2 separate regions of the Homo sapiens genome follow, and region 1 is linked to region 2. Evidence: fine-mapped expression QTL. A gene starts in region 2. The other region holds a variant in brackets. All regions are shown on one strand. Distances are from middle to middle. Region 1 overlaps SYNRG (synergin gamma). Region 2 holds the start of DDX52 (DExD-box helicase 52).

Region 1 (2,918 bases), 57 kb before region 2:
TGGCTGATAGCCTATTCTCATTGACAGCAGTGTATCTTTACAGAAAATGAAAAACCCTTCACATTAGTAATTAGGTAAACCAAAATGAGAAGAATCAATCACAGCCTCAGCTTGGGCTGGTGCCCCAGTGACGAAATCCACTCAATGAGTGGGAAGAGGCACATTCAGGGTGTGTATGTTCTGGGTGAAGAGAAGTATTGAAATACTACCTTGGGTTTCACACTGCTCAAAAGTCTGAGCTTTTGCTTCTGCTCTTCAAACTGGCGTCTTTTTCTTTCTTCTTCTAAGAGTTTTTGCTGCTGTTCAAATCGTTTCCTGAAGGAAAAATGATCTAATAAAGAACCAGCTCCCGGGATTATACACTGTGTTTTATATTCAGATTTCTAACAGTTTCAGCAATATCATGTTGCACTTCCAGAAGTGTAAATTTCATTGCTAAATATCTAGTTTTCTTACGACAATCCTGTTTCCTCACTATATTAATTCCAAAATATTTGACATGAGTCTAAAGAATGATTTACCTAAATTATGTATATGAATTTATTTCTCATCTAATTTGCAAGAGGAGGAAACAAGCTTTTGCATATAAAAGTATTCTCGAAAAACAGGCAGACAAACATAAGAACACACTTTGCTCTGCATATTAAAAAAGAACCTGCTTGGGAAGGCAGTGTCATACAGCAGAAAGAGTAATGATTTGGGAATCAGGAAGCCTGCCTTTGGGTCCAGGCTTTGCTGGTAACTGTGTAACCTGGACTGACAAGTTGTTTCATTTTCCTGGACTTCACTTTCACTAGATATAAAACAAGAGGGTTGAATTACAGGATCTCTAAGGTCCTTTTTGACTCTAAACTTATAATAATGGTAGTTTAAAGAGGCTTTTTTGTTTTTGTTTTTAAACAGGGTCTCACTCTGTTACCGAAGCTGGAGTACCGTGGCATGATCACGGCTGACTGCAGCCTCAACCTCGGGGCCCAGGTGATCCTCCCACCTCAGCCTCCTGAGCAGCTGGGACTACAAGCATGAGCCACCAAGCCTGGCTAATATTTTGTATTTTTTGTAGAGACAGGGTTTTACCATGTTGCTCAGGCTGGTCTCGAACTCCTGGGCTCAAGCAATCTGCCCACCCCAGCCTTCCAAAGTGCTGGGATTATAGGCATGAACCACTGGGCCAGGCCTTAAGAGTTTTAAAGACAACTTTTGACTGTTTTAGTTTCAAATCTGCACTAGAGATCATTAGACAATTCTTAAGATAGATGCTATAATGTATCTTTGTTATCCTTTAATTCTGGTGATCTCTTACTGCTGCTCTTCGGCAAACTGCTTCTGCATGTCTGGAGTGTACTGTGGGCCTGGAGGACGCATGCCCAGGAAGGGTGCTTGTCCTAGGTAAGGCATTCCCGCTGCTGGCATTGGTCCCATTGGTATTCCTGCCTAGAAGAAACAGACAAAGGCTTAAAAAACACAATTTATCCCTTTAATTATCACACACAAAAATGTGACTTCCATAAATTCTATCTTAATACTCTTATTTGTAAAAAATAGAAATATATTGGATTAAAAGATGCAAAGATGCAAATAAATAAAAGA[T/A]GCAAATATACAAAGAAATATATTATATTAAAAGATGCTAAAAATGGAAGGCTCCCCTTAATATCTAACCCCTCCATTCCCTTCACTGTCCCAGAGGTGACCACTGTTAATACTCTGATTGGTGTGTTATGGAACTATATGCCCACAAGTTATATTCTTGTGAGCTCACTAATCCTCTTTGAGAAGAGGCATTATATCTTATATATTTTCATATTTGCAATAATAGGTAAGAGCCTGGCATATGGTAAACATACCACAAATGAAATTAAATCTGATTTTCCAATATATATGAGAGGATAATGAATATTTTGATGTTATCAAAGGCCTAATAGTCAAACTTTTATAGAAAATGACACATATTCAATAAAAAATTACATAATATTATAAAGTTTGTTAAAGTGTCCAGAAATAATAATAACACAATAGCTAATCACAAAATTTAATAATATTATGTTTTTAGAGACAGGGTCTCGTTGTGTCACCCAGGCTGGAGAGCAAAGGCGCAATCACAACTCACTGCAGCCTCCAACTCTTGGGCTCAAGAGATCCTCCCGCCTCAGCCCCAGAGTAGCTAGGGCTATAAGCGTGTGCCCTCGATGGCACCTGGCTCAAAATCTAATATTAAGAATGATGACAATGACAATAATTAAATGGCTAATTTTTAATGAGTGAAAACTCTTCTACTACTCAACCTTCTCCCTGAAAAGTTCCTCTTCTGTCCCTAACTAAAGTCTGTCCGTGAAACACTCTCATTTGGAGACTGCTACTTCTCTTCTATATTTCCTGTAAGTGGGGAATATTCCTCCTTGCTTCTTCTAAACCTTTTCTCTTCTCTCTACCTTCAAAAACCTGAATACATTTTAATTTCTCACTAACAGACTTCATCATCTACTATCCGATCTTGTTCATGTCATCTACTGACCCTCAACTTCCTCACTCTTCAGTTGAACACTTCAGACATTGCTGTCTTCCATTCTACCCCCAAACTGCTCTTGGTAACGTCAACAATCACCCACATGGGTAACTCACCTAACACTGTGTGGTCTTCCAGGTCTTTAGCCTCCTCATCACAATCATGCCCAACATACAATTCCAGCTTCCCATTCCATGGTAATACCCATGATCTATCTGCACCAAAGACTGTGTCATGTCCAAAATCTGGATGTTAGGCATCCCGACACTTGACCACCACCTCCTATCCTTCTAGCTCATCTAGATCAGTAATTCTCCTATCTCATTAATATCTCCCACCTGTTAATTTATTTTTTTTCCGTGAGCTTATTTTGTAGGTTCCACCTGTTAATTTTGCCACTTTTCTCATGATTAAT
Region 2 (2,918 bases):
AAAGGGTACATACCCTTTCACCATATGATGCTACTTTTCGGATGGTATTCTGCAGAAATAACAGTACCTGTACAAAAGGATTTATGTATAAATATCTTTACTTAAAATTACCTTTGCTGTAACAATATTTCTAATGACAAATACCTGGAAACAACCTGAGTGCCATCAGCTGACAAATGACCTTATTGTCTGACTTGTAGCCATAAGCCTGTATTATTTTTATAACTGAAAAAAATTAAAGAGAAAAAACATGACAGAAATCAAACACTAACCTGAAGTCATCGTCTTCCTTTTTTTCTTGCTCTGCTCCCTCTTCCTTTCAGTTAGGCTCTCTTCTTTTTTCTCTCCATTTTGGGGCTTCTGATGTGTTTGTGATGCTCCACACACACCTGGGACAGACTTCTTGTTTCCAAAAAAGTCCAGTCCCTGAAGCACCTCCGAAGAATCAAAGTCATATTTCCTTTTTCCTATCTAAAACCCAAAAAATGTAAAATGAAACCTACTGACAGAATACCATTGCTTTCATTCAAGCAAGACTGTTCAATGACTCCTCATCTTTTCTACCCTTTCACCAAGTATCTGTCGAGCTAACAGGTGTCTGGACAAATGGAATCTGAAGAGACCTTCTCTGACCTCATAATAGTAACAAATTAATATTAGCAATGAACACATATATGCTTACTAAATGTCAAGCAGATTTCTAAGCATGTTTATACATATTAAATTGCTTCACATTTACAACTCTATAAGGTAAATAGCAGTATTACGAATGAGAAAACCAAGGCATTCGGAAATTAAGTAACTTGAGGTAGGTCTAAAAATGAGTAACTGGCAGACTTAGCATTTAGACCCAGATAATCTGGCTCCAGAGTTCATACTCACCAGTTAGAGAAAGAAGAAACACATGTCACACGCATATACACATCCAAACAACAAAGTAGACATTCAAGATTTTCCAGAATTGGGCCCCAATTGACCTCCCCCGATGTATCACTCACTACTTCTCTAGGTAAGAGCCCCCATTTCTTAATCGCTCTTCTCATTGGTTACTTAAGCCATGGGGTTGAAGCAATAAAAAGAATCACGCCCAGTACAACTATACGCATGCCAAGCCAAACTTGGGGAGACTATAGTAAGAGAATCTGTTTTCTCCATCTTTGGTTGTTTCTGTTTTCGAAATTCCTTTCCTCTAGGTTCGGAGAAAAAGTTCCTTTTGAAAGGAGGATTCCAACTTTGCTTTGAATAAGAGGGAGGAAAGAGGGTTTCCGTGCCAGGCCCAACTAGGTCTACAACAGGATAGTTAAAGAGCTTATTCAAAAGGCTTGAACCGAGCAGCCGTGCAGGCAAGCCGAACACAAAAGGAAGCAAAATACCCCAAGGGTGGCGAGAGCCAGGCCACGGGTGTCCAAGTGCGCCGGCCTCCCCCAGCAGCGGGTTCATTCCCGGGCTCCTGCTCCTTCTCAGTTACTCGGCCCTCGGTCCCTTGGGCACAGTACCTGGAATCGAGCTGCGTCTGCCGAGAAGCGTCTCGTGTCGAATTTGGCCCCCGCGCCGAGCCGGCGAAAGAGATCGTGGACGTCCATCTTTACCCAGAAAGCGCCACAGTTCTACGGCGCCTGCGCAGACTACTTCCCAGGCCCCGGGCAGCGTCGGAAGAGGGCGTGAGCATAATTGGCTCCTGTAGGCGGAGCCTGGCTGGGTGAGAAACGAGGCTATTTTATTATCGTGTACTCCGTCATTATTTATCTTTTTTTTTTTTTTTTGAAACAAGGTCTCTCTCTGTCGCCCAGGCTGGAGCGCAGTGGCGCAATCGCAGCCTCGAACTCCTGGGCTCAAGTGATCCTCCCATCTCGGTCTCCCAAACTGCTGGGACTACAGGCGTGTGTAAATTCTTTTAAAAAATATTTATCAGTATCCTCTTATGTTGGGCACTGTTCTAGACTTTGAGGGATACTATAGTAAACAACATCTTAAGATTCCTCTTCTTACGAAGCTTACATTTTAGTAGGGACAACAGATATTGTTAACAAATAAATAAGCAAAATCTCTGTAAAGTAATAAGTGCTATAAAACAAAAAGGTGTAATTGATAGAGAAAATGATGAGGGAGCTGACTTAGTGAAATTCACTCTGTTGAAGTGAAAACTTGAGCTAAGAGGAAGCAACCTGTCCAAGATCTGGGAACAGCATTCCAGATAGGGGAAACACGTGGCTGAAGGGAAAAAAATTGGAACCTTGAGGGAATAGAAAGAATGCCGGTGCGACTAGAGCCAAGTTGCAGTCTGATAGAGTAGTACAGATAAGGTTGGAGGGACAAACAGAAGCCAGATCTCACAGAATCTTGTAACAAGGTCATAGTAAGGAATTTGGACTTCCACCTTGGGAAACTATTTGAAAATTTTTATGGAGAGAAGAACATGATTTAGTTTATCACATTTAATTTTTTATATTTATTACATCTGTACGAAATTATTTACTGCTTATTGCCTCTCCCTCTTCTGGAATGTAAGTCCCTGAGCACAGGGATATACTTTGCTTCGTTATGTATCCCCAGTTTCTGTGCACTTTGGTGAATGAATGCGTGGATGTTTCATAAAGGATTACACTGGCTATTTGGAGAATGGACCATAGAAAAGCTAAGAGTGGAAACAGGTTAGTCAAAGTAGAATGATGATCATGGCTTGTCTAGGTTGGTATCTGTGCTGAGAGAGATAAATGGATTAGATCTGGCATGTATTTTGGAGGTAGAGCTAAACGTACCTGACGGATTTTATGCAGAGGTGAGAGAAAGGGAGGAATCAAAGATCACTCCTAGTTTTTTGGCTGAGTAGATGGCATGCCATTTACTGAGCTAAGAAAGCCTGAGAGAAGAAGGGCTTTCTGGTACAAGTGAGATACGGAGGATGGAATCAATTGTTA

Evidence for each region. PIP is the estimated chance that this variant, and not a neighbour inherited with it, causes the effect. A credible set is the group of variants that fine-mapping cannot tell apart.
Region 1: its variant is the best candidate, but not a certain one, in a credible set for the expression of DDX52 in lymphoblastoid cells (GTEx, PIP 0.56).

The regions. Positions count from the first base shown.
Region 1 is chr17:37,585,116-37,588,033 of GRCh38, forward strand. It overlaps SYNRG (synergin gamma), which reads right to left. Exons shown (of 22, transcript NM_007247.6): 4 at 1,304-1,434; 5 at 210-315. Among named protein-coding and RNA genes, the nearest start is that of SYNRG, 23 kb to the right of the region's middle. The variant T/A (reference allele first, on the strand shown) is at 1,591.
Region 2 is chr17:37,641,838-37,644,755 of GRCh38, forward strand. It overlaps DDX52 (DExD-box helicase 52), which reads right to left and starts at 1,609. Exons shown (of 15, transcript NM_007010.5): 1 at 1,497-1,609; 2 at 273-471. The coding sequence starts at 1,583. LOC105371756 (a long non-coding RNA gene) reads left to right here and starts at 1,101. Exons shown (of 2, transcript NR_188617.1): 1 at 1,101-1,699.